4 linked regions of the Homo sapiens genome follow. The protein of the gene in region 2 purifies or fractionates together with the protein of the main gene of each other region. This does not show direct contact. Each region holds a gene or a part of one and is shown on either strand. Other genes may lie near its edges. The genes, in order: SPAG5, MYCBP, OTUD4 and KNSTRN.

Evidence for each region.
Region 1: the proteins of MYCBP (region 2) and SPAG5 purify together in Homo sapiens (co-immunoprecipitation; 3 studies listed by BioGRID and IntAct, with this or other methods). This does not show direct contact.
Region 3: the proteins of MYCBP (region 2) and OTUD4 purify together in Homo sapiens (co-immunoprecipitation; 3 studies listed by BioGRID and IntAct, with this or other methods). This does not show direct contact.
Region 4: the proteins of MYCBP (region 2) and KNSTRN purify together in Homo sapiens (co-immunoprecipitation; 2 studies listed by BioGRID and IntAct, with this or other methods). This does not show direct contact.

The regions. Positions count from the first base shown.
Region 1 is NC_000017.11:28,589,002-28,596,025, forward strand, and holds part of SPAG5 (sperm-associated antigen 5), read right to left. Parts: intron 4,066-7,024; coding exon 2,981-4,065; intron 2,872-2,980; coding exon 2,697-2,871; intron 1-2,696. UniProt on the Homo sapiens protein: Essential component of the mitotic spindle required for normal chromosome segregation and progression into anaphase. Required for chromosome alignment, normal timing of sister chromatid segregation, and maintenance of spindle pole architecture.
Region 2 is NC_000001.11:38,870,348-38,878,267, forward strand, and holds the start of MYCBP (C-Myc-binding protein), read right to left. Parts: upstream 3,002-7,920; 5' UTR 2,959-3,001; coding exon 2,944-2,958; intron 2,744-2,943; coding exon 2,671-2,743; intron 1-2,670. Other genes in the region: GJA9 (gap junction alpha-9 protein), read right to left, coding at 4,204-5,751. UniProt on the Homo sapiens protein: May control the transcriptional activity of MYC. Stimulates the activation of E box-dependent transcription by MYC.
Region 3 is NC_000004.12:145,135,589-145,142,612, forward strand, and holds part of OTUD4 (OTU domain-containing protein 4), read right to left. Parts: intron 6,747-7,024; coding exon 6,608-6,746; intron 6,052-6,607; coding exon 5,791-6,051; intron 4,404-5,790; coding exon 4,363-4,403; intron 3,063-4,362; coding exon 1,842-3,062; 3' UTR 1-1,841.
Region 4 is NC_000015.10:40,385,717-40,392,740, reverse strand, and holds part of KNSTRN (small kinetochore-associated protein), read right to left. Parts: intron 6,380-7,024; coding exon 6,247-6,379; intron 5,583-6,246; coding exon 5,535-5,582; intron 3,236-5,534; coding exon 3,130-3,235; intron 2,906-3,129; coding exon 2,812-2,905; intron 1,249-2,811; coding exon 1,187-1,248; intron 793-1,186; coding exon 718-792; intron 1-717. UniProt on the Homo sapiens protein: Essential component of the mitotic spindle required for faithful chromosome segregation and progression into anaphase.

The sequences.
Region 1 (7,024 bases), on a different chromosome or scaffold from region 2:
TTTCCTCTAATATTTCCTGCAAAAACTAAGTACCCTTAAGTTTAAATTGTTGCAAAGGCTGTAATGTCCAGCATATTACCAATATTGACAATTTAAAATAATTTTTTTTTTTTTTGAGACAGAGTCTTACTCTATCCTCCAGGCTGGAGTGCAGTGGCGCGATCTTGGCTCACTGCAACCTCTGCCTCCCGGGTTCAAGCGATTCTCATGCCTCAGCCTCCCAAGTAGCTGGAATTACAGGTGCCCTCCACCACACCCAGCTAATTTTTGTATTTTTAGTAAAGACGGGGTTTCGCCATGTTGGCCAGGCTGGTCTTGAACTCCTGACCTCAGGTGATCCTCCCGCCTCGGCCTCCCAAAGTGTTGGGATTACAGGTATGAGCCACCATGCCCAGCCTAAAATAAAATTATTAGATTACTCTTAAATATATCCAGTGGCATAAATACTACATACACCAAAATGATGAGATACCTAGTTGCTATCTTTTAAAAATACAAGAAAAAGCTCTTCTTAGCAGTCAGAAATTTTATTATGTCATCCCTTTTTCTCTTTGAACATATATTTTTTATTTTTCTCAGAATTTCAGCCTAATGTAATATATTTTTATGCTTTAAAGTATGTTATTAGCTGGGCACAGTGGCTCACACCTGTAATCCCAGTGCTTTGGGAGGCAAAGGCTAGCAGATCACTTGAGCCCAGGGGTTTGAGAACAGCCTGGCCAACATAGCAAAACCCCATCTCTACTAAAAATACAAAAAAATTAGGTAGGTGTGGTGGCATACACCTACAGTCCTAGCTACCCAGGAGGCTGAGGTGGGAGGATCACCTGAGCCAAGGAAGCTGAGGCTTCAGTGAGCCCTGATCGCAACATGGTACTCTAGCCTGGGTGACAGACCAAGAAACTATCTCAAAAAATAAAAATAAAATCTGTTATTAACCATCATCTCTGCAACAACAATGAAAGTTCATCTAAATTTAAATTAAAATTTCCTTTAAATTCCTTTGACCGGAAGGCTTTAAAGTGAAAAAGCTTTCTTTAGGATAGAGAAATCTTTTAATCAGTTGTATATTAGTCACTGTAATATAATTTCTAATAAAATAAACATGCTCGGCAAAATTTAATTGGGAATCACCTATTAATGAAATCGATGGAGATTCCTTCCCCTTATTAGTTCGTATATCTGTGGATTACTATAATTCCAGCAATAAGAAATAGTTCAGCAACAATTCGTGACTCTGTTTTTTGAGGCAGGGTCTGGCTCTGTTGCCCAGGCTGGAGTGCAGTGTCAAGATCTCAGTTCACTGCAGCCTTGAACTCCTAGCCTCAAGTGATCCTCCACCTCAGCCTTCCAAGTAGCTGGGACTACAGGCACACACCACCACACCCAGCTAATTTTTGTATTTTTTTGTAGAGATGAGGTTTCACCATACTTCTCAGGCTGGTCTTGAACTCCTGAGCTCAAGCGATCCTCCCACCTCACCCTCCCAAAGTACTGAGATTACAGGGGTGAGCCACTATGCCAGCTGACTCCTTTCCATTCTGACAGATGTAAACACTGAGAAATCTTCTTCACATAAACAACAGGGGCCAGGCGCAGTGGCTCACGCCTGTAATCCCAGCACTTTGGGAGGCTGAGGCAGGTGGATCATGAGGGCAGGAGTTCGAGACCAGCCTGGCCAACATAGTGAAACCCTGTCTCTACTAAAAATACAAAAATTAGCCGGGTGGGGTGGCATGCGCTTGTAGTCCCAGCTACTCAGGAGGCTGAGGCAGGAGAATCGCTTGAACCTGGGAGGCAGAGGTTGCAGTGAGCCGAGACCAGGCCATTGCACTCCAGCCTGGGTGACAGAGTGAGACTCCGTCTCAAAAAAAAAAAAAAAAAAAAAAAAACTAAAAGTATAATTGGATTGCTTGTAACACAAAGGATAAATGCTTGAGGGGACAGATACAGATACTCCATTTTCCATTTTCCATGATGTGATTATTGACCATCACATGCCTATATCAAAACATCTCATGGACTCCATGAATATATTTACCTAACTCTGTAACCACAAAAATTAAAAATTATTTTAAAAAATGTTTTAGGCTTATTCATAATTTTTCTTAAAATATTAAATATAGTCTACCAATGCAAAAAACGAAGAAAAAGAATACTTGTGGAAGATGATGATCTAAAAACCAATTCCTTTAAAAGTTTCCTTGCTTGCACTCCTTTGGAAAGTTCTGATGTACCCCAGGGGTAGAGTGACTACCCACAGCTTTAAGGGGATTTTCCAGATCCTCAGCTTTTTTGTTTTAAGAGACAGGGTTTCACTGTCTTGCCCATGATCATAGCTCACTGCAGCCTTAGCCTCCTGGGCTCAAATGATCCTCCTGCCTCAGCCTCCTGAGTAGTGAGGCATGCAAAACCATATCCAGCTGATTTTTTAAAAATCTTTTGTAGGGATGGGATCTCGCTGTGTTGCCCAAGCTGGTTTCAAATGCCTGGCCTCAAGCAGTCCTCCCACCTTGGCCTCCCAAAGCAGTGGGATTACAGGCATCAGCCATTGTGACTGCCCAGATTCTCAGCTTTTGCAAATGTTCTAAGTATAAGCCTGTGATAGGAGTCCCCTTTGCCCTCTGGCAGCTTCTCAGCTTAAATTCCAAGGATCCCCACTGGGATCCCTCAAGCTTTGAGAGGAACCTTCTTACCCCACTGTGAGATGTGTCAGTCTGTGTGCTACTGTCCTGGGTTTCTGGGTGAGGGACAGCCAGCTGGCTCTTCCAGTCCCGAAGCTGGCGGGAGAGAACCTCCAGAATGACAAGAGAGCTCAGCAGGTTATCTTCCAAGTCATGTCGAGACAAGGCAGTCAGATCTGGAGGCCGGCTGCAGCAGAAAGAGAAGAACATGACGAAAAGAAAAGGAGGGGAAGGGATGGGAGGGGAAGGTCCAGGGTAATGGAACTCACGAGGTGCAAGGACATAGGGGCGCTTACCCACACAGGAGCTGCTCTGTCTCAGAAGTACTGTGCTTGGTGCCAACCAGGCCTGTCTGGGATGTGTTTGTACTCTTTTCCTGTGGTGCTGAAGGAGTAAACCAAGTCCCCACCGAGCAAGTAGAGAAAGGGGTAGTGCCAATTGCAGCATCCCGAAGCATCGAGGGAAGGGATAAGCTTTGGCGGAGATTTTCCAGCATGACGGAGGTATTTACACCTTTTTCCAGCCAGGCCAGTGGGGACATCCAAGACTCTGTATCAGAGCCAAGAATCCTACCAACATCTTCTACTGCTGGGCCTGGAGCTTCTTGGGATTCCATTTCTACTAGATTTGGTGTCAGGCATGTGGACAGAATATCTTCCACACTTGAGACAAGTGCTTGATCTTCTGTTTCAGACTCCTTAGGATGTGTGGGAAACCTCATTTCTCTTTCCTCCATAGCTCCATGCTCTACAATTTCCTCCTCTGGGTCCACATGATTGACACGGAAATCTGCTGCCAAGGCAGTTGAAGGGGAAAGCCAGAGAACAGAGGAAGGCAAGAAGGCGTTACTTTCAGAAGGTACTAAGTCCTCACGCACAGCCTCAGTTCTACTGCTCAGGCTTTCCTTGGAGCAATGTAGTTGTTCAGAACAGGGATTTGGTGGAGACTCCTCTAAGAGATGGGACGGAGATTCCTGAAAGATAGGTTTCTCAGATACAGCAGCAACTTCTGAAAACCTGTCTCCCATGCAGGGTGCCACCTCCTCTCTCACCAGATCGTCTGTTCTCAAAGGTCCATTTAAAGATATGCTGTTTGTCTCTGCCATGGTATCTAAACGGGCCTCAAATATCATGTCTTGTTGCTGCCCCAGTGGAGATGGTACAAGGACGATGGTTTTAACCATATAATTGCCCAGTGGGTCTACTGCTTCCTCAGACGTTTTAGGAGTAGAGCTAATTTGGGGAATTGGATCTAGAGGCTGCTCATCTGATTCATGCTGACAAGTTTCTAGCCACTTTGAGGAATGACTGAAATGTTCTGAAGATAAGTCTGTCCTCTTGTTATTTACAAAATCCACTGGAGATGAGTTGTTGCTGCCTTCCTGCCAAAGGAAACAAAAGTAGTTGTCTAAGGCAGTCAATTCAGTTCCCGACATACAATTACAGGTGCAAGATAGTGCACTCAAAAAAGAAAAGAATTCTTACTACCTCTGCTTAGGTAAGAACTTGGCTAATCTTTGTTGCTCATATAGAGACCCAATAGTAGGGAAAGAAAAGCTGCTAAGCCATTTTGGGTCCTTCCAAGTGAACCAGCCTACATTATAAACAGGCTGAGAATATAGATCCATATCGTGGGCAGATGGTAGCTTGAAAGTGACCCCACTCATCTCCATTCTGAACTCTAACGCACTTCTAGATGAACAGATAGGAGGGGTCCATAGGGTGTGAGTGAAGGCTTAAGCTCTGTCAGAATCTAGAGTTGGTACAAGTTCTTCTCCCTCTCGGCTGGGCGCAGTGGCTCACGCCTGTAATCTCAGCATTTGGGAGGCCACAAGCAGGTGGATCGCTTGAGTTCAAACCTCATCTCTACTAAAAATACAAACATTAGCCGGGCATGGTGGTGCTGATGTGTGCCTGTAGTCCCAGCTACTCAGGAAGCTGAGGTGGGAGGATCACTGAAGCTCAGGGGGCAGAGGTTGCAGTGAGCCAAAATCGTGCCACTGCACTCCAGCCTGGGTGACAGAGCAAAACCCTGTCTCAAAAAAAAATAAATAAATAAATAAAAAAGGTAGACCCTAACAAAACAGAGCTGCTGGAAGACACAGATGATAATCTGAACAACAACAAAAAAAACGAGTACTTAAGCTTTAACTACAACATAAATACACACACAAAGACATTTTAGAAATAATAAATATTATTTTAAATAAAAAATGTCAGTAAAATGAATTGAAAGAGTAAATTATTAGAGTTGAAACTAGAATTACTGGCCTGGACAAGTGGAAGAAATATCTTAAAGCAAAGATAAAAATATAAAGAAATGTAAATCTGAAGAAAAAGCTAAGAGAATTAGAAGATAAACCCAGGATACCTAACAGTTAAATAAAAGAAATTCCAGAAGAGAACATATATACATGAGGCGCTGATTAACAAATATTAGAAGAAAACTACCCTAATGAAAGACCTGAGTTTGCACATTAAAATGGCTCACCAGTTTCTAAGCAGGACTGACTAGAAAAGATACATGCTAGACACATAATTATAAAATTTCTGTGCTACAATGAAGAAAAAACTATTCTGGAAGCTTTAGATAGAAAGTCCAATTATTTATTAAAAAAATAATCAAACAGACCGGGCGCAGTGGCTCACGCCTGTAATCCCAGCACTTTGGGAGGCTGAGGCGGGCGGATCACGAGGTCAGGAGATCGAGACCATCCTGGCTAACACGATGAAACCCCGTCTCTACTAAAAATACAAAAAATTAGCTGGCTGTGGTGGCGGGCACCTGTAGTCCCAGCTATTTGGGAGGCTGAGGCAGGAGAATGGCGTGAACCCGGGAGGTGGAGCTTGCAGTGAGCCAAGATCGTGACACTGCACTCCAGCCTGGGCAACAGAGCGAGACTCCGTCTCAAAAAATAATAATAATAATAATCAAACATATGAAATTTCTCATTTATATTAGTGGATGAAACAAAACCAAGGTTAGGTTAAAAAGGGCTTCTGATATTCTGGTACTGTCCTACTTACTGACCTGGGTATTAGTTACATGGATGTGTACTTTATAGTAATTTGTTATGCTGTTATGTTTTATTGTAATTTCATGTATCTTACTTTAATTTTGAAATTATTAAAAGGTATGATGGCTCACACCTGTAGTCCCAGCTATTCAGGAGGCTGAGGTGGGAGGACTGCTAGAGCTCAGGAGTTCAAGGTTGCAATAAGCCAAGATCACACCACTGCACTCTAGCCTGGGTAACAGAGCAAGACCCTGTCTCAAAAAAAAAAATAAAAAAGACAGGGCATGGTGGCTTACACCTGTAATCCCAGCACTTTGGGAGGCTGAGGCGGTCAGATCACAAGGTCAGGAGTTCGAGTGCAGCTGGGCCAACATGGTGAAACCCCATCTCTACTCAAAATACAAAAATTAGCTGGGCATGGTGGCGGGTGCCTGTAGTCCCAGCTACTCGGGAGGCTGAGGCAGGAGAATCGCTTGAATCTGGGAAGCAGAGGTTGCAGTGAGCCAAGATCGCGGCACTGCACTCCAATCTGGGCGATACAACAAGACTCCTTCTCAAAAAAAAAAAAAAAAAGACAATATAAAGATGAGTGTGTGTGTGTGTGTGTGCATATATACAAAATAGACACACATAAAGAGATGTATGAAAGAACTGTCAAATATGACATTTATCTAAGATACCAGAAATATTTCTTCCTTATACATTTATATATTCAAATGCTTCAAACAATTAATATCTATTAATAATCAAAAATTTACAAAACAGGCCAGGTGCAGTGGCCCACGCCTGTAATCCCAGCACTTTGGGAGGCCAAGGAGGGTGGATCACTTGAGGTCAAGAGTTTGAGACCAGCCTGGCCAATGTGGTGAAACCCCGCCTCTACTAAAAATACAAAAAATTAGCCAGGCATGGTGGCACGCGCCTGTAATCCCAGCTACTGGGGAGGCTGAAGCAGGAGAATTGCTTGAACCCGGGAAGCAGAGGTTGCAGTGAGCCGAGATCACACCACTGCACTCTAGCCTGGATGAAGGAGTGAGATCCTGTCTCAAAAAAAAAAAATTAGGCCGGGCGCGGTGGCTCACGCCCGTAATCCCAGCACTTTGGGAGGCTGAGGCAGGCAGATCACGAGGTCAGGAGTTCAAGACCAGCCTGACCCCCAACATGGTGAAACCCTGTCTCTACTAAAAATACAAAAATTACCTGGGCGTAGTGATACATGCCTGTAATCCCAGCTACTCAGGAGGCTGAGGCAAGAGAATTGCATGAACCTGGGAGGCGGAGGTTGCAGTGACCCTAGATGGCACCACTGCACTCCAGCCTGGGT
Region 2 (7,920 bases):
AATATATATATGTAAATTAAATTTGTGAGGCTGGGCACAGTGGGTCACGCCTGTAACGTCAACACTTGGGGAAGCTAAGGCAGAAGGATCACTTGAGGCCAGGCATTCCTGGGTGACAGAGTGAGACTCTGTCTCAAAAAAAATAAAAAGTAAAAACAAATAGAGGCCGGGCGCGGTGGCTCACGCCTGTAATCCCAGCACTTTGGGAGGCCGAGGCGGGTGGATCATGAGGTCAGGAGATCGAGACCATCCTGGCTAACAAGGTGAAACCCCGTCTCTACTAAAAATACAAAAAATTAGCCGGGCGCGGTGGCGGGCGCCTGTAGTCCCAGCTACTCGGGAGGCTGAGGCAGGAGAATGGCGTGAACCCGGGAAGCGGAGCTTGCAGTGAGCCGAGATTGCGCCACTGCAGTCCGCAGTCCGGCCTGGGCGACAGAGCGAGACTCCGTCTCAAAAAAAAAAAAAAAAAAAAAAAAAAAAACAAATAGAATTGTGTAAAGCACCTATGTTTGGAGCTGAAAATCAAATTTTTAATAAATCACATCAATACTGTGTTGGCTGATGTTATTTAGGAGCCTGGAAATCTAAGGAGATTGAGAGGTTAAATTCTAGTGGAGGGCGGTGGCTCACACCTGTAATCCCAGCACTCTGCGGGGCTGAGGTGAGCGGATCACCTGAGGTAAGGAGTTCAAGACCAGCCTGGCCCATGTGGTGAAACCGCCTCTCTACTAAAAATACAAAAAATTAGCTAAGCATGGTGGCACATGCCTGTAATCCCAGCTACTTGGAAGGCTGAGGCAACACAATCGCTTGAACCCGGAGGTGGAGGTTGCAGTGAGCCGAGATCATGCCGCTGCACTCCAGCCTGGGCAACATCTTCTGTGTAGTCAGTTACCGCCTACAACTGTCATTTTTCTGCCTTTTACCATTCAGTCTTTCACTTGCTCCATCCAACCACTCTGGCCTCCTTAGACTTCCTGAAACTCTGTTTCTTTCAGGTTTCTGGTCAAAAATTACTTCTTAAGAAAGGCCTTCCCCCCATCACCCTATATAAAATGACACACACATCCCACCTGTCACTTTTTTTTTTTTTTTTTTTTGGAGACAGAGTGTCACTGTTGCCCAGTGGCACAATCACAACTCACTGCAGCCTTGACCTCCTGGGCTCAGGTGATTCTCTCACCTCAGCCTCCACAGTAGCTAGATTACAGGCACACACCATGCCCAGCAATTTTTTTTTTTTTTTAAGAGATGGGAGTTTTGCCATGTTGCCCAGGCTGGTCTTGAGCTCCTGGCCTCTAGCAGTCCACCCACCTCAGCCTCCCAAAGTGCTGAGATTACAGGCATGAGCCACGTGCCTGGCCTCACCTGTTACTCTTTATCCCTAACTTTGCTGTATTTTTATCTGTACCACTTACCACTAGCTGACACTACATATTTATTTATGTATTTCTCTCCCTCAACTAGGATATAAGCTTATGAGAGCCGAGACTTTTATCCTCCCCTGCTTATCTCCAGTGTGCAGAACAGACACCTGAGTAAAATTATTAAATGAAAGAAATGAACGTAAGGAGTTTTTAGACGGAATGACATTCAAAGCATCTGTGACACTTTCAGAGACAACATAGCACAGTACTTTCACAGAGTAGTCCCTTAAGACTTGCTGAAGTTTATTTGCAAAGAGGTAAACTATTATCTGAACCCCAAATAGGTAGCAATTCAAAATTACTAGCCTTCTTTCTTCTAAGACCCAGGAGTTATGCTCCTAGAATTTTCCTCTAAACTTTGCTTCTGTCCAAAGGGCAGTTACCAATTTATTTCCCACTTCCCAAACTTCCTAGTTTCATATGACCCAAGTCCTCATCCCTGCGAACAATTCCATTCTACACCCTTGAATATCCCAGTGAGTTGAGTGACACATAGCAGGCATTCAAATTAGTGCTAAGCCAATAAAGTAAACTGTACCCTACCCCTTGAAATCCTCCTGTTTCCAACACTTTACTCATCTACTTAACTTAGATCTTGAAGCCACGAATGAAGAGATACAGCGTTAACAGTAAGCTTTCATTTTAAAAAGTGAAAACAATGTAACCACCTTGATATGCCCTCGAGCTCTTTAAGCTGTAATTCTACTTTATGAAATATACACAAAATAAGAATTGACACAGACAGACTAAGGAATGGGGGCTGAAAAGCCACAGCCAAATTCGCTATGAATCTCCTACTTTGGGGATTAGGCTCACTCAGCTACTTCATAGCCCACTTGGAAATTCGGTCATTTTTCCAGTTGCTCTTTGTTGGAGGGAAACTTTCTTAACAAGATTCTGAGGACTCCATAAAAACCGTAAGGTGGGAGGAATTGGGATCTGAAGGTCCTTGGCAAACATGTCCACTGCGGCTGCTGGAGGCAAAGCAACGGAAGTTGAAGAGACTTTGCAACAGCTGCAAGAGTTTCACTCCCGGTGCGGAGAAGGGTAGCGGAGCTAGGCTACCCCACCCGGGCGGCGTCCAGCAGCCAGGTCCCTGCTGAACCCCGAGGCCCACCTCGCTGGACCCCGGACGGGCCCCATCTGTTTCCCCTCCTTCCCCACGCTACGGCCCGCTGGGGAACGGGGCAGCGCCGGGGAGCACGACGAGGGCACGAGGTACCCTCTCCTAGCCCAGGCTCACCCTTGGTCAGCGTGTCCAGCACCCCCGACTTCTCCAAGTACCTCCGGAACTGCTCACGCTTCGAGTCGGCGGCCTGAAGAGACACCGGGGGTCAGTGGCCAGAGCCCGGGAGCCGAGCAGGAAGAAGGCGCTGGGAGTCCGGCAACCCCGCCTCCGCCTCACTACCTCGGGGCCCTCCCGCCCAAACCTGCGCGCGCGACCCCACTCCCACCCAGAGCCGACCAGCGGCTTGCTACCGCCCGCATGCCCCCAGCCACGCCGCGCCCCCCTCACTTTGTAATGGGCCATAGTGACAGCGGCAGCGGCGTAGCTGGCGCCGGAGACCGCGACTGGCGGGTTGGGAGCAGCACTGCTCATGCGCGGAAGGGGGCGCGCGCCTGCGCACTTGCAAACCACCGGCCGGGATCGCCGAGGTGTGGCCTGTTTTCATGGCGACCAGGACGCTCTGCATCCCCAGTAGCAGGCTGAGCCGAGGGAGGCTGCGTATGCCCGCCCCTCTGGCTGTCGGAGCCGCACCTCTTCCTCTTCCGGCCCCCGTAGCAATTAGGTTTCTTTGCAGGAGGTGAGATTTTGGTACCTCTGTCCTGGCGTCCGGAGGCAGGGCCCGGGAGCATTGAGACTATTGCGAGAGAAAGGACCGCCGCACGGTGGTAGCGAGCGCATCTTTTTCATCTGGGACCTCGGAAACTGTGGTGACCCATAGGTGCTGGGCTTCTTGGCTCTCGTCCTGAGAAAGTGCTCACAGTGCTTTGCAGTAGCCGAGGAGGGTGTTTAGAATCATATATTTTGGCTTCAGCTTTTATCTTTGGAGTCTCCTTGAGTCGTGGCTGACTTGATGTGGGCCTCTGGAGGATGAGCAGTAACGAGCTTGCAGTAGCTTTTGAGCCAGGCACTGTAGAAAACACGGGTATTTTAAATTTTAATCCTTACAACACCCCTGTAGGGTGGGTATTGTTAATTAAGTGGAGTGGTTAGATGTCCAGTGAGTAGAGTCGAGTCCAATCCGGGCAATGAATCACGATGCTATGAACTGGTGAAGGAAAGCCACGGATCTTCTTAAGATTTTATTTACTAGGTAGCAACATGTGATTATACTCAAGACACATCAGGATGCCAGTCTAGAAGGAAACTTACGTGATTGTGTTCCAGGGGCAAACAGAATTAACCCAGTGTCCAAGGTGGAATTGTATAGATCAAGAACCATTTCCTAAGGCTGTGGTCTCTTCAAAGAGAAAACCTGATCAAACCATTTAGCCTCAATTCTGAACATGTGATTTTCCCAAAATCAGTTACATTCGAAAGGATATCATTTAAAAAAAAAAAAATCCTGATTTGACAACTCTATGTCTTTGAATTTAGAAGTGTTGCTTCACAATCTCGAATTAGAGCTGTTTTTCTCTTGCTTAAATGAGTTTGCAGTTGTCTGTCTTAACAGCTGGTCTTTAGAGCTGCCCCTATCTATTTTTTCTGTGCCCCACGACCACTAGGCTACTTCTCTGATAATATATATAATGTCTAAAAGCCAACCGCTGTTTAGATCTGAAGATCTGTGGGAACCCGCCTACCAATGAGATTGTTCGTTAGGGACACTACGTGATTTGGAGGACAAACAGGATTATTACAGGTTCTGACCAACCCTGGCTCAAAGGACAGCCCTCCCAAAGAATCAGCAGTGTTTGGAATGTCAAGTGATTGAGAATCTCCTTGTGAAGGAGGAAGGGTTCTGACTGTGCCCTTTCTGAACTGGCCCTTGAGGTTACCTTTAGGAGGTGACCCCCGGTTTTCATGTTCTGTAGAGGAACCCCATGTAGCTCTAAGCCACCGCGGTTTCCAATCGCAGTTAGCTGGCAAGGAGAAAACTGTTTGGGGTGACTGCCTCATGTTGTTCTCTCCATCTATAGCAACACCTGGAATAGAACGGTGACCTCTAGAGTAGTAGTTCCTTTTGCTGTCTTTGCCTTCAGTTTCTCTTTTTTCCATTAACTGGTTACCATTAAGTTCTTTTCCAAATATTTTATGAGTGTCTTTGTTATTGTTTGAACTGATGTGTTGAAAATGACTACAACTAGTACTAAGTGTGGAAATCTCATTAGAAAGTACAGTTTCCTGTTCATCCAAAATGCATTTCTCATCATTTACACTATGATTGTCAGGATTTGGCTGGAATACAGAAGATGAATTTAAACTAGGGTACACTGCAGTGTGTGTTTGCTTTTCCACTAACAGATTATAATCAGGGGCAGAAGGGAGTCGCTTCAGTGAATTTGCAGATGTGCTCTGGTATTTGGCTACATTTTGTTTTGCCTTGTTTGCATGGAATTCATTATGTTCCTTCTTCAACTTGTATTTTCCCCAAAGCCCTCTTTTAATCTTTTTAAAACCTAGGTGGAAAATTTCAAGAATGTTTAAGAAAAGTGAAATAGTGGCTATAGATTGCATAAATAATAGGAATATTGTCTTTTCTGTTGGTCTTGAGACAAAACAGTCGATTATATTTGGACACGGGTGGCCATGGCACTTAAATAGCGGCTCTAAGTGAAATCCATATAAAAGGTACTGTCCAATCATGAATCCAACTTCAACCACAGAGCGAGTGAAAATGTGTATCACATAAGTGCAAAGCAAGGTTCCTCTGAGTGGAGCTTTATTTAGTTTCCTTTTCTCCAGCTGACAAAGCTCTTGCTCCAATCTCCTCCGATCCCTAGGCATTTCAAACTCTACCTCCTCCAGTTCTACTCTTAACTGAGCTTTCATCCTTTGCCTCTCTTCCTCAAGAACTCTCAGTCGGTACAATGCATGGCCCATGTAGACCAGGGATGGTGAAGACACAAATATCACCTGCAGAACCCAGTATCTAATGAGGGAGATAGGAAAGGCCTGGTCGTAGCATACATTTCTGCAGCCTGGTTGTTCTGTATTGCAGATGAAGCCAGACTGCTCATCATTCCAGACATCTTCAGCTGCTACACCCAGAACAAGCATTCGAAATATGAACAGGATGGTGAGCCAGATCTTTCCAATCATGGTGGAGTGGATGTGAACTTCCTCCAGAGTATCTCCAAGGAGATTCCAGTCCCCCATGTTTATTTAGTCAGCCATCTTAGCTCTGATCCACATCAAATAAGAGGCAGATAAATTCTTCCATTCTGAAGGGAGCACTATTTCTTAAAGCAAACCTATGGTGAAAATATAACAATATGTCACTTCTATATGCTGGTTGCTTTACTTTTTCCCTAGATAGCTGTGGGGTTTTTTCTTTGTTTGTTTGTTTGTTGAGACAGAGTCTCCCTCTGTTGCCCAGGCTGGAGTACAGTGTTGCAACCACAACTCCCTGCAGCCTCAACCTCCCAGACTCAAGCGATCATCTCCCCTCTCAGCCTCCTGAGTAGCTGGGACTGCAGGTGTGTGCAACTACACCCAGATAATTTTTTTTATTTTTTTGTAGAGACAGGGTCTCACTCTATTGCTGCAGCTAGTCTTAAACTCCTAGACTCAAGTGATCCTCTTGCCTTCACCTCCCAAAGTGTGGGAATTACAGGTGTGGGTCACCACACCTGGCCAAAGTGTGAATCTGTTACCAATAATATACTTAAATGTCAGGAATTTAAAATCACTTATATTTAGACATCACAATACAATGAAAAAAACATGATACCTGGAGGAGGAGTGTATATATTCTCTATTAAGAATATAGGCTGGGCGGGGTGGCTCACACCTGTAATCCCAACACTTTGGGAGGCCAAGGTGGGTGGATCATTTGAGGTCAGGAGTTCCAGACCAGCCTGGCCAACATGGTAAAACCCCGCCTCTACTAAAAATACAAAAATTAGCCAGGCGTGGTGGCAGGCGCTTGTAGTCCCAGCTACTCGGGAGGCTGAGGCAAGAGAATCGCTTGAACCTGGAAGGCAGAGGTTGCAGTGAGCTGAGATCAAACCCTTGACCTCAGATGATCTGGCCACCTCGGCCTCCCAAAGTGCTGGGATTACAGGCATGAGCCAATGCGCATGGCCTAAAATTATATTCTTTTTTTTTTTTTTTTTGAGACGGAGTCTCACTCTGTAGCCCAGGCTGGAGTGCAATGGCATGATCTCAGCTCACCGCAACCTCCACCTCCTGGGTTCAAGCGATTCTCCTGCCTCAGCCTCCTGAGTAGCTGTGATTACAGGCATGCACCACCATGCCCGGATAATTTTGTATTTTTAGTAGAGATGATGTTTCTCCATGTTGGCCAGGCTGGTCTCGAACTCCTGACCTCAGGTGATCTGCCCACCTCGGCCTCCCAAAGTGCTGGGATTACAGGCGTGAGCCACCATGCCCAGCCTATTGTTGTTTTTCAACAGAACTTTTGGAAAGGTTTCTAAAACTAGTAACCTGATCTTAACCTTATTTATTAAGATTATTTGATATAAAAGTTATAACAAAGTCAATTTCTTTTTCCCCAACATGCCATTACTGGCTTGAAAAGTCAGTGATTTTTTTTTCTTTCTTTCTTTCTTTTGGGACAGAGTCTTGCTCTGTCGCCAGGCTGGAGTGCAGTGGCGCAATCTCGGCGCATTGCAACCTCCGCCTCCTGGGTTCAAGCGATTCCCCTGCCTCATCCTCCTGAGTAGCTGGGATTACAGGCGCCTGCCAACACCCCCCGGGATAATTTTTTGTATTTTAGTAGACACGGGGTTTCACCATGTTGGCCAGGATGATCTCGATCTCCTGACCTCGTGATCCACCCGCCTCAGCCTCCCAAAGTGCCAGGATTACAGGCATGAGCCACCGTGCCCGGTCAAAAAGTCAGTGATTTTTAAATCTCATTTATACACATAGGAAAACGAATATGCTTCATTTGATAATTCAGTAAGATATGGCATTCAGTGAAACCAGAGGAAACAGATCTGGCTGTCATAGGAATTTAGATTAGTTTTTTTAATCCAAATTGAAATAAATTTGAAATAAATTCTGGTTTCTTCCTGGCAATTGGTGAACATTTTCAGAAATTCATCTCAGTAATATTTATGAATATGTATAAAGTACTTATTATACTTTACTATGAAAAAGTATACTTTTTTTCTTTTTTTTTGGTGGGGGGAGACAGAGTCTCACTCTGTTGCCCAGACTAGAGTGCAGTGGCAGGATCTCAGCCCACTGCAACCTCCACTTCCCAGGTTCAAGTGATTCTCGTGCCTGAGCCTGCCAAGTAGCTGAGACTACAGGCAAGTGCCACCACGCTTGGCTAATTTTTGTATTGTTAGTAGAGAC
Region 3 (7,024 bases), on a different chromosome or scaffold from region 2:
AAGCGGTACCTTCAACAACTATTCTAGTTAAGAAGGTGACAACAAATTCCTTTCAATAGGTTCTCTCAAGAAAAGTTTTCCACACAACCATCCCAGTCTTTACAATTTTTTACCTAGCACCATCATAATAAAATGTTATCTTTCAAAGTGCTCTCTAAAATCCTGTTACATTATCTAAATGCTAATCACTACTCAAATCAGCAGTTACACAGACGTTAGGTAATTAAAACAGCACAGAGGTAAATAACCATTATTACAGTACAGTGGCGATTCACTAGCCCAACTGGCATCCAAACATTCCCATAGGTTATCAGAGAACCCAGAAAACCCATCTGTTTCAGTTTGTCAAATTCAAGTGAATTGTATTTTCTTAAGTAATTTGCTTTACAAAAAAAGAAAGTCACCGCATCTGGTTTTGGCTAGGTATATTACACATGGCATGCAAAGAGAAATTACTACTATGTTATTTGCATAGCACTCAAACTTCCTGATCAGAAGATAATCTCAACATAATAAAAGAGTGGATTTTCACATTGGTATGCACAAATAAAGAATATAAGCTACAGTTATTTTTACAAAATAACACAGATGAATGAATACTGTGTTAATTCAGAGTTCAATCTCCAAATGAGAACAGAGTGCAACATGCAAAGGGAACCTCTAGTGAATACTGCAAAGACTGGAAGAAAACAGAATGTAAGATGTTACCTACCTAAGGGTAACAAGCTATAAAATACAAAGCAAAACCATTTTCTAGCAGCATCCTCTAGAAAAGAACTAGAAGTCACAATCATATTATCTTCTATACAATAGTTCCAGCCCTGACAAGTAGAACATGCAAGTGTAAAGTGAAAGTGATACACAACCAATGGTGCGGGGGGGGGGGGGAGGAAGAAAACAACTCTAGAAACCTGTCAAGCTAAAAATTTTTAACATTTCTTCTCACAAAATATTTAGAATCTGTCAGTGCATTAGTGTTAAAGTGGCATTAAAAAAACTTCTGCAGTTCTAACTGATGCAGATTATTTTCAAAATGCATAGCATCTACATTTCTTTCGAGTAGGCACCATGATATTTACACCAGTGCTAAGAATTCTTGGTGGAAACAGCCATTTCATTGGATTTCCTACTATTCTTCTATGCAATCTCAACAAATACCAAAATTCAAAAATATACCTTATGAATATTAAAAGAACTATATACAACATTGCTAAGACACAGTTAATAGGCTGCCTTATGTGAATATTAAAGAGAAGACATTATTCAAGTTTGACAGATATTGAGATGAAAGGCCTTTGGGTTGGAAGCATTTTAAAAGACAACAGTGTTTTAGGCTGAGAATTGTTTGAGCCCAGTTTATGACTAAGGCATTGCATAATAAAATATACATTTCTATTTGGTGCAACGTTATGTTTGGAATCTATAGTGTGTCAAATGGTATATTTTCTTGTCACTTTAGTAAACACTATAAAGCACACATTTCCAACATCTGAAATCAAACTTATAAACTTATAAGGAAAAAAGCCAAACACTAAATCTATAATGTTTTATATTAAGCTGTTTATAAAAAATACTTTAACAAACTTATCTTCTACTTTTTACGGGGACAGTCACTTGATCAACAAACAGATTCTGAATGAAGAAAACTGGCAATGCCAGGAATTAACCTGCCCCCTTGAACTCATGTCCAAAATGTCTTGTCCAGTATGGGAGTGAAGGTAAGGGGGGCTGGGGAGAGGAAAGAGTTCCAACTGCGGTTTTTACTTTATTGTATTTTTTTTAAAGCCTTCAGAAACATTCCACCTAAGAGTTTCTGTTAGAAAATACTTCGGCAACAACCATCAAGTGTGCTGTCCCCTATGGCCATCTCCCATCCCTGATCTCCTCCTATCTCCCCTAAATGGTCGCCCTCTGACATTTCGATGGTACTGATAACCTTCATCCCGACTTCTGCTTGGCTGTCCTTTCCAGGACTCCTCACTTCTCACATGTTGATATCCACCCCTACCAGAATAGCCCCAATCACTTTTGTACTTCCTGCTTCCATAAGTTTGATTATAGAACTGCTTGGATCTACCACTTCTCAAAATATTAGACACTTCATTTTCATCTTCTGAACTCTCTTCTTTTGGTCTTTGCACTCTGCTATCAACAGAGTTGGCCCCAGGGCTGACCACATCAGCAGCAGTCTTAGGATCTTTTACTTTTTCTGTTTTTTCTTTCAGGCTTTGAATGGTCCTTTTAGGTTCAAGTTCAACAGGCACAGTTTCTCTCTCTCTGTTTAGAATCTGAGTGGGAGGATGAGCCTTTCCCTCTGCTACAGGAGGGATGGAAGCCAATGCCGTATCTGCCTTTCGTGTCTGGGAAGATTGCTCTGTCCGGCCTTCGTCCGGCTTACTGCTCACACTTGCTTCAGGGAGAGAATGTACATGTTCACCCCTGGCTTCTGGAAACTCATCTACTGTTGAAACTGAACCACAATCTTTAGACAGATCCAGATTTTCCAGAGACAGATCCAATTCTCCTTTTTCATCAGAGGGCAGGACAATATTCTGCCTCATTACTGGATTTTCTATGAATCCCTGAAAAGGGTACCCATACCAAACATGAGGAAAGAAAGGAGGTGCAATAGGAACTGGGCCTAAGAATGGATTGGGTCCAAAAGATGGCTGGGGGAACATATTCTTGCCACTTAGTGACTCTTCATAATCAGCATGCAGAAGCTGCCCAGGGGTCTCAGATTCAAGATCAGCCTGGTAAGACAATTGTCCATGACTTTCAGACACCTGAGATGGAGGGATAACCAGAGGTGAAGAAAATGTCGGCGGTCCAATCTCTGGCTGTGGCATTTGACCATTAACACTGGCCTCAGTCTGCATAGGAAAGTGGGCATCAGTACAGGTACAATCACTTTCATTCTGAGCAGCAGGAGCCTCTTGGAACCAGGGATTATGAGGATAAACAGGGACAGGGACCTTTGGGTACATCCTGCAGGCTGCCAGGTAGGCCTGGTGCAGAGGGTACAGGTAAGAATGTGGGGCCCACATAGGACAACTGTATGCCTGAAGAGACAAAAAACAGTTAAATAAACAAAAGAGGAGAAAAAAGAGAGGTTTGGGTGGATATCAATCTACAAGTACTAGGGTCAAAATAAGTTTCTCATGCCTACAAAGACCATATAATCTATAGTCCAAATACTAAATCACTGTGATAACCAACGTGAAAATGAATTACAAAATTCACTGCTTTAAGACTCCATTGCTTGCTCCTGTCCTAAAACCAATCTGAAGTCCTCATAGGTTGATAGGAGATAGTATCTCCATCACTGACTGTTTAGCCAGACCTGCATTCACATTCGGGCTCTACCACTAACTCACTGTGTGACCCCATGCAGGCCAGTTAACATCTGAATTTGTTTTACTGGGAATGTCAGTATAAGAGTAGATGATCTCCAATGTCAGGACTCTGCAATTCTAGGAGCCCCCAAGAGTACTCCGAATGTAAGGATTAAGTTAGACCTCTAATCAGGGAGGGATAATGTTGAAAATGAAATATTCCAAATCCTTCCTCTGCAAGAGTTCAGCTAAAAACCAAAATATGAAGAAAGTATAACCAGCTAATTGGCTAACCAATTAAAATCAACATTAAATACATTAAAATTAAGCAATGCAGCAGATAGTAAAATAATCAAGTTTCTTTTTATGAAAGTGGTCAGCAGGCTAAAGGTAGGGCACTTCGTTTCATAGTTTAACTGTCTAGAACCCACAAAAACTAATCTAGGTCAGGAGAAAACCTAACATTTAACAAGGACAGAGTTCTCCAACCTAAGAAAAGCTATTTCTAGGTTGACCACTTCCCAAAGGATACCTCTGCTCTTCTAGTCAACAACCACACTATCTTACATAGGAGGATGTACACGTTATTTCCTTTGATCTTTTCAATAATGGAGGCAAGTAAAGAATATTACCCCCATTCTATAAATGAAAAAAGCTAGGCCCAGATACACTACATGGCTTGCCCAGGGAAATTCAGCTAAAGAGTGATGGAGCAGAACTTCAAGCCCAGATTTACATCTAATTATTCCCCAGCAAGGGCATTTCCACTAGGCTGCCCAAAGATGCAGCTATGTCTTAAATATACTCACAGGTTAAGCCATCACCAGTTAAGACAAAAAAGTAAGTAAAACTGGAGCCTCTACTAGCACCAAAAACAAACGATATAGTACTGAAAATGCTGGTTTTTAAAATGATGAGATTTAGTAAACTTTAGGTTACTGACTGACAGGGTAAGAGTTAACACTAGTAATAATTTAAAACACTATTAATGAATAAAATAACTTTTAAGATGATAAAATGTAAATACCTTCACACCAAGATTGAAGAAGAATCGAAGAATATTCTTATCTAAAAATAAAAGTAATCACTTGTTAAAATTATATATCTGCAGAGATTTTTTTAAATCATCCTCATTAAATATATAGTTCTAAAGACAATTTTACCTACTATAATTGTCTTCTCTAGCCTGTGATACAAAACATAGATAAAAACTGTAATATAACACAACCCAAAAACAGGTTGTTCCCAAAGGTTAATTCCAGATTCAATAGGCTTTGTCTGTTAGCATATAAATCCCAAAATGGCTTAGATTGAAATTTTTATCTCATTAAAACTGAATCTGGGTAAAGGACATTCAGGTGGCTTTCTTTCTCAACTTTTCTGGGGGTTTAAAAATTAGGAAATAAAAATGTTGAGAAGAATGGTAAAATCAACATAAAACCTAACTTATTAGTAGCATCATTTGCAGGATAATATTCTTCCAAGTATTCATATGCCATGAGCCAGTTACTCATAGACACAAACATCAAACTACTAACTAATAAAACAAAAACATCCACATAAATCCAGGTAAACAGCATATAGTAGTCAGTGCATTACTCAAATTTACAGATATAAAATTTTGGAAACTAAAAAGGAGGGAGGTGTAAATTCCTTAAAAATAAAGAGGGAAAGCAAACTTTGAAAGAATTTTTTAAACAAAAATAAGACATACTAAATATAGTACTTTAACAGCCACTACATACTATATTTGCTTTTCTCTGTAACTTTTTCACGGATGCATGTCTGAAATGCAGACCAGTGTTGATAAAGCTCCACAGTGTTTAGGTATCTAATTAGTGAAATTATTATTGTAATTCAGAATGGTTTCAAGTCCATTTATGTAAAAACACAGAAGGAGGTATCATTACTAAGCATACTAGCATTAACAAGTATGCTAGAAACAAAAAAAAATTTTCTGGGCCAGGCGCGGTGGCTCACACCTGTAAACCCAGCACTTCGGGAGGCCAAGGCACGCAGATTACGAGGTCGGGAGATCGAGACCATCCTGGCTAACACGGTGAAACCCCGTCTCTACTAAAAAATACAAAAAATTAGCCAGGCCTGGTGGCATGTGCCTGTAGTCATCCCAGCTACTCAGGATGCTGAAGTGGGAGAATTGTTTGAATCTGGGAGGTGGAGGTTGCAGTGAGCCGAGATCACACCACTGCACTCCAGCCCGGGTGACAGAGCGAGACTCCGTCTCAAAAAAAAAAAAAAAAAAAAATTATAATACATTTTCTAATAAATCAAGCTGAAACAAGAATGACTGACTAATAGCTAAAACTTTGCTGTCCTTCCCATCCTTGAGCTTACTAAGAAACCAGACCTCTGACCTCTACTTACATCTCTTCATTTCTTAACTAAGCTTATTTGGACTTGATAAAGTCGATTTGAACTTGGAGAAGGAGCTCACCTTTAGGTAGGTCCTCCCCAGTCTGACACAGTGAATAAGGTGGTACAATGGCTCGATCTCCCTTTTCATTACAAGGAAACCCAGGATAGAGTGGGTCTTGATAAAGGCTCAATGTCTGAGGCAAAGGCATCAAGGGCTGGTTAACTGCCTGTATTGACACAGGAACTGGAGAGGGTGTTAAATGAGCTTGGGATACAGCTGAATCAGGTCCAGTGGTCAAAGTCTGTGTCACTGACAAAACGGGAATTGGAGCAGGGACACCTACAAAAGAGAAGAAAAGGAATCAAAATGACAAAAGATGAAAATCTCTACAAATATGCTTACATTAACCTATAAAGAATGCTGTATAACTGATAAAGCCAATCTAAAGTAGTACCTTTTAGTATCAACCAAGAGCCCTCCTGGACACCAAGAAGGAAATACGTCCAGGATACAAGCTCTGAGTCAATGTCTTCTAATAGTAGCTCTTGCAGGCACGTGTAGGACATGGGGCTGGTCAAGGGGTTCATTACGGGGCCATAAAGAGCTGGCCCATGAAGGAAGCATCAAACCGTGGTGCTAATTAGTGCTGAGCAACCAAAGCAACCAGCTCAAACATCATGCTCCTGAGACTATGAGGGCATATGTCAGATGAATACAACACCAAATGTACATGGTCTTTCCACATTGGAAGCAGAGCAAAGCAGAGTATCACAGAAAGCTCTGTGAGGCTCCACACACCTAATCCTGCTCAGAGGTCAAACTTCCACTCAAGAATTTGAAGTCTCTGACTAGAAAGGTATTTTGGCTGGCTAGATTTTCTAAACCCTTCTCTAACCTGTTGGTCCAAAAGTTGTAGGTTCACTTGGCCAGGCTGGCACAGTGGCTGGTAAAGAAGGCACCGCAGGAGTTAGATGTACCTCTGGAGAAACTAGAAGGGGAGCTGGATTTGACAAAGACACATGTTCTGCTGGCTTCTTCAAGAAAGGGGTGAGTGGGGGAAGACAGAAAAAGACAAGAGGTCATTTTGCTTTAACACTATTTCTAACCACCAGATACATATTGAGTTGCCTGCCTTTTATACAAATGAAGTACAAATAGCCCTTATAGTCTTAGAAATGTAAGAAAAACACACAGTAGCTAAAGATAATATGCAAACAAATTTGATCCTAACCAAGGGTTGCCTACCAACAAGGACTGTATTTTTTAATACAGACAGGGTTTCACCCTGTTGCCCAGGCTAGTCTCAAAACTC
Region 4 (7,024 bases), on a different chromosome or scaffold from region 2:
TACTTGGGAGACTGAGGCAAGAAAATCGCTTGAACCCGGGAGGCGGAGGTTGCAGTGAGCCGAGATCACGCCATTGCACTCCAGCCTGGGGGACAACAGTGAGACTTTATCTCCTTGCCCTCCTGGGCCCAAGTGGTCTTCTTGCCTCAGCCTCCTGAGCAGCTGGGACTACAGGTATGTACCACCACGCCTGGCTATTTTCTAAATTTTATTTTGTAGAGATGGGGTCTTGTTATGTTTCCCAGGCTGGTCTCAAACTCCTGGCTTCAAGTAATCCTTCCACCTCAGCCTCCCAAAGTGCTGGGATTATAGGCGTGAGCCACCATGCCTGGCTGATTTCTTAGTTTTGACAAATGTACCAGGATAATGTAAGATGTTACTATTGGGGGTGGAGGAGGAAGTGCATCAAGAAGAATAGCTAATGGATGCTGGGCTCAATACCTAGGTGATGGGATGATCTGTGCAGCTAACCACCATGGCACACGTTTACCTGTGTAACAAGCCTACACACCCTGTACGTGTACCCCTGAACTTAAAAGTTGGAAAAAAAAAAACACGTTACTATCAGGGTAAATTTTCTGTATTATCTTTGTAACTTTCCTATAAATCTAAAATTATTTAGAAAGTTTATTAAAAATAAATAGAAAAACAGAAAAGACCCCACTATAAATCTACCTATCATGGTAGGAAATGGTCAGGGTGATGTCTGCCTCTCACCTGTAACTCCTCCATCTGCTTTTTGGCTGTTTCGTTAAAAAGCTTCAGCTCCTCTTGCAAAGTTTCTAACAGCAACTAAGAGGAAAGCACAATGTAGTAAACAAATCTTCATATAAAACCAGACTTGCATTAGATGATGGCTAACATCCTTTCCACACAGTTCTCAACAAAGGAGTCAGGAGAGAAATTTGATAAAGTATAGAACAGAAGAACGAGAAAGCTCTCTCTACAGGTTTACCTATTATGTGTTTTAAATTTTCAATTCAGACTCACTTATATTTGTAAGCACAAAGCTACCTTTCAAGTAAAATATGCTATTTTGAGTACACATCCCATTTCTCTTTTCTAGCATCACAGATAATCAAAGGCTGTTTCTTGGAGTTTATGGAATATATAGCAGAGACCTTCTTAGATTTACAGAGCCCCACAGTCACTCAGCCCTTGCGCCCTTTCACACCCATGCCCTCACCATAGAGTCCATGTGATCAGTAGTGGATTCTTGTCGTGATGCCAGGGTCTCACTGCCTAAAGCTGATGGATACAACAAAGTCAATCTCACTTAGGGAACTACACACCCTAAACAAAAGAAAATAAAAACCCTCCGTGGACAAGTACAGAAATATTCATGAGGGGAATTTCTCTTAAGTGTCTCATCCTGGACTTTCTCCTAAGTTTTCACCTTGGCAGGGTCACCCATATCTGCCCTGCAAAACTGTATTTTATCTCCTTTCAATCTAGGTTTTGATATGGCCAAAAATTCGGTATACTTTCTCCTTAGGTCAGTGGACAATTTGTCCAAAGGAAATGTATAGGTTGGATTTTTTTTGGTTTTGTTCACAATTCACAAAGCTATTTTTAAGAGCCTTTCAGGCCTTAAAAAATTATTACTTTCGGTAATATCACATGCATGTAATAAACTAAAATCATACAAAATATTTATGGTGTCGGATGTGGTGGTGCACACCTGTAGTCCCAGCTATTTGGGAGGATTGCTTGAGCCCAGGAGTTGGAGGCCAGCCTGGGCAACATAGCGAGATCCCATCTCAAAAAAATAAACAATTTTAAATTTAAAAACATATATATTTATGGTGACTATAAAGAATATCCTAGGCTGGGCATGGTAACTCATGTCTGTAAACCCAGCACTCTGGGAGGCCGAGACAGGCAGATCACTTGAGGTCAGGAGTTTGAGACCAGCCTGACCAACATGGCAAAACCCCATCTCTACTAAAAATACAAAAATTAGCTGGGTGTGGTGGTACACGCCTGTAATCCCAGCTACTCAGGAGGCTGAGGCAGGAGAATCACTTGAACCCAGGAGGAGGAGGTTTCAGTGAGCCGAAATCACACCTCTGCACTTCAGCTTGGGCAATGGAATGAGACTTCATCTCAAAAAAAAAAAAAGAATATCCTCAACTGTAACCTAAAGATTAACCAGTAACATTCAAAGTCAGTATTCCTTAATACAAAAAGGCCTGGGCCCCTTTCCTGGGCATTCTCTGGCTCTTTGACTCAGTCTGAGGCCCTCTTACAGTCTTTGGGCAATTCCTTCTTCTGCTCTCTTTGCTACAGATACTGCTTTCTGGGGGACAGGGTCAGAATAGTAGTCATATTTTAGTCACTGTAATTCTGATGATTAACCAGGTTTAAGAATGCTTGAAATAGTATTTTCTTTCTCTTCCCATTTGGGATTACTAGTATGCTTGAAAGGAAGAGCATGTTCAAACAAAATGTTCCTTTCAAGCACACTAGTAACTTTCCCAAATAGGAAGAGACAGAAAATGTTCTCCCTTGAAAGGAACAAAGTGTTTCTCATCTATTTGCAAGGTCATACCTGTTGGCACTAAATGAATGGCATAAAGTGTTCAGGTAAGAAAGAGATAACCCTCTCTCTATAATCATCTGAAATCCTATTGGCCAGGCAAAAATCAACATCACATGAAAACAAACAGAAGCTTTCCAAAATCTTTAGGGCTTTATGAAAGTAACCCCTGCACATACTGGGCCAGCTGATGCCATGCTGCCAAGATCAACCCCGGAAGGGGCACATGCACCAATTCCTTCAAAGGAGGCTAGCTGTGTGCTGTCTCTTACCTGGATCAAGGCCCTTGCTCTCCAAAATTGCCAAACAGTTGTCCCGAAACTTCTCCAGCAGCTCTACCTTCTGGGTCAGGTCCTTCAGCTCTCCCTATTGGAGCACAGCACAGACAGATCAGGAATTGTCCAACTCCCTAGGGGTGGTTGCCCTTTCTTGCCCTTGCTCTTGGACAGCCATAGCAAAAGCCTGGCTTTTTTTTTCTGCCCTTGGGCATCTGTGCATTAACAAGCTTGCTCATCCAAGGGGCCACCCATCAGGATTCCATGTGGATCGCCCAGTGGCAGCTGGTAACAGAGCTCTGGTGGGTCTCTTACCTGAGTTTCAGTCAACTTCTGGTGCAACTGCTTGTTGACGGCTTCTAACAGCTGGTTCTTGTCCTTGAGCTCTTCCTCTGATTTTTGCTTACTCAGTGGTTTGTAGCTGTAATAATAGTTGTACTTACATGAAAAGATAAAAGGGTTAACAGTATGGCCCACACCAGGTGCGGTAGCTCATGCCTGTAATCCCAGCACTTTGGGAGGCTGAGGCAGGCAGATCACCTGAGGTCGGGAAATCAAGACCAGCCTGACCAAGATAAGAGAAACCCTGTCTCTACTAAAATTACAAAAGATTAGTCAGGCGTGGTGGCGCATGCCTGTAATCCCAGGTATTTGGGAGGCTGAGGCAGGATAATCGCTTGAACCCAGGAGGCGGAGGTTGTGGTGAGCTGAGATTGCGCCATTGCACTCCAGCCTGGGTGGCAACAAGAGCAAAACTCCGTCTAAAAAAAAAAGAAAGAAAAATACGGCCTACAGAGTTACACAAACACGTCCCATTCTATCCTGGCTATTACACAGTGGTATATGACCTTCAGTGAGTTGCATAACCTCCCTGAGGCCTTGTTTCCTCATTTTTGAAATCAGGACAATACCCACATCTCATAGTATTATTATTATGAGTAATAAGAGAGAAAACACGTGTGCATTTCTTAGCCCAGTAGCTGGGCTATTATCTAATGTTAGTTTATCATCTAATAAACTCTAATATCACCAATTGTTGGGAGCAGGCCCCCCAAATCTGGCCATAAACTGGCCCCAAAACTGGCCATAAACAAAATCTCTGCAGCACTGTAACATGTTCATAAAGGCCCTAATGCCCATGCTGGAAGGTTGTGGGTTTACGGGAATGAGGGCTAGGAACACCTGGCCTGCCAAGGGCGGAAAACCACTTAAAGGCATTTTTTTTTTTTTTTGAGATGGAGTCTCGCTCCGTCGCCCAGGCTGGAGTGCAGTGGCGTGGTCTCGGCTCACTGCAAGCTCCACCTCCTGGGTTCACACCATTCTCCTGCCCCAGCCTCCCGAGTAGCTGGGACTACAGGCACCCGCCACCATGCCTGGCTAATTTTTTGTATTTTTAGTAGAGACGGTGAAACACCATAGTTAACCAGGATGGTCTCCTGACCTTGAGATCCACCCGCCTCGGCCTCCCAAAATCCTGGGATTACAGGCGTGAGCCACTGCGCCGGCCCTTAAAGGCATTCTTAAGCCACAAACAATAGCATGAGCAATCTGTGTCTTAAGAGCGTGTTCCTGCTGCAGTTAACTAGCCCAACCTATTCCTTTAATTCAGCCCATCCATTTCCCATAAGGGATACTTTTAGTTAATTTACTATCTATAGAAACAATGCTAATGACTGGTTTGCTGTTAATAAATACGTGGGCAAATCTCTGTTCGGGGCTCTCAGCTCTGAAGGCTGTGAGACCCCTGATTTCCCACTTCACACCTCTATATTTCTGTGTGTGTGTCTTTAATTCCTCTAGCGCCGCTGGGTTAGGGTCTCCCCGACCAAGCTGGTCTCAGCAACCAATATTAGAGTTTTTTCTTAAAGTTCTCAGTCTTTTTTGCTAGTATTTTGTCTTCAAAACTTTTTTATTTTTGTAAGTCAGAGTCTTGCTCTGTCACCCAGGCTGGAATGCAATGACGTGATCTTGGCTCACTGCAATCTCTGCCTCCCGGGATGAAGTGATCCTCCTGCCTCAGCCTCCTGAGTAGCTGGGATTACAGACATGCGCCACCATGCCTGGCTAATTTTTGTATTTTTAGTAGAGATGGGGTCCCATCATGTTTCCCAGGCTAGACTCGAACTCCTGACCTCAGGTGATCCACCCACCTTGGCCTCCCAAAGTGTTGCGATTACAGGTGTGAGCTGGTGTGCCCTGCTGTCTTCAAAACTTTTAAGATATGCCCAAATAATAGATCTGGAACTAAAACCTATTTGTACAGACTTTTCAGCTTATTATTTCTATTTCTGATAGTGCAAAACTTCCAAACTAGCCTCAAAGATGAGACATGAATCCTTCTCCAGGTTTTCACCACCACCACCACCAGAATCTTCATCTCGAGATCACTAACTACATACACCCAGCCCTTCCTCTCCTGAAGGCTTTACCCTCCTGTTGATGGGCCATAGCTAAGTGTGATTTCCAATCAGCAGTGGTCCTGGCGTGGAGTCCAAAAAGCTCTTGCTTGAGACACAAGATAGTAGCACCAGTGATTCTTGCACTGACAATGGTTCTTACACCTAGCTGTGCCTCACCCCTGAAAATTCCACTCAGGTTCCTGAGGTGGAACCCAGACCCTAACACAGTAAACAAGTCCCACAAATGATTCTGATGCAGAACCAAGGATTGAGATCCACTACCCTAGAATAGTGGCCAAGTTGATTTACCCTGATGCTCACCCTTTTCTGACATTCCTTCTGGTGGCAGTGTCAGTAGCTTTCATTTGCCTAGGAGGGCAGAAACAAAGAAATGAATCAGAGACTTACAGTACTGTTAAGTGTGCTGTGAACAGGCAGAACAAAGAGCTTGAGTTTCTGAGGAAAGAACCAGACATAAAAGGCAAATGGCACAAGCTTAAGAGCTCTGAGAGACTATGCATTACTGCTTCGGCACAGATTATTGAAAAGGCTTTTTAGTAGCAAAGGGGCATGCCTCCGACCACCCTAACAACCTGACAGAGCTGTTCCTCTCAAGATGGCGTGGCTATCTCATGTCAACCTCACTCACCTGGAACTGACTGCTGGCTGGGGACATACACACACACTAGGGCTGGACTGTGTGGTCAGAGCAGCAACCTAGGATAACAACTAGTCCCCACCCTGCATGACTACCCCTCAGGGTTGCTGTATGACTACAGTGCTGCCACTTGTATGCTCAGAGCAAGCGATGAAAGAGGAAAGAACACCTCTTATAACTCTGGCTGTGTCTCTTCAGAAAGATCAACACAGAGGGTTCTGGCACAGAGCTCAGCAATGCTGCACTGCTCTGGGCCACTGATTGAAGGCCAGTTGTTCAGGAGACTTGTGTTGTCCAAAACTCTGTTTTCTAATTCTTTGTATTGAGCAATTTCTAGGAAGATGTTCTAACTGGATACTAATGATCCGTTCTCACCCATTCTCTCGTCTCAGTTTGGTGATTTTTGTAACATCATTCTCTGGACCTCCTGAATGAAGCTGTTTGGAAACATCGACTTCTTTGGACCTAACAGGTAAGAGACTCTTAGAAGTGGCCCGAGTTTGTGTGTCTGCAAAGGAAAATGAGAGGTAAAGCTTCTGGCATCATGACCCGACAGTTGCAACCCTGTAACAAACAGAGCCCCATTCGAAGTTGTCATAAATCTTTATTTTACTTTATTTTAAAAAGTATTATTTATTTTTTTGAGACAGAGTCTTGCTCTGTGGCCCAGGCTGGAGTACAGTGGTGTGATCTTGGCTCACTGCAACCTCCACCTCTTGGGTTCAAACGATTCTCCTGCCTCAGCCTCCCGAGTAGCTGGACTATAGGCACCTCAAATATGTTTTAAAATTTTAAAAATAGAGACAGGGTCTCACTATGTTGCCCAGCCTGGTCTCGAACTCCTGGGCTCAAGCAATCCTCCTGCCTTGGCCACTCTGGCGTGAGCCACGATGCCTGGCCAAATCTTTATTTTCATTCTGGCAAATTTCAACATGTGAAGATTAATTCAAAAGAATAAAACTTCCAGGCTAATTGGCAATAAAAACCAAAATTATTTAAACGTGACAGTACAGCATGTTTGAGGGTAGCCAAAAGTTTCATTGAACTGAAAGGTGTAGGCTGTAAAAGTGAACATGGAGATGGACACCAGCAGAGAGCAGGGTGGAAGTTAGCAGGTAAAACATGCCTGAATCCTTGTACCATCTCATTAAGC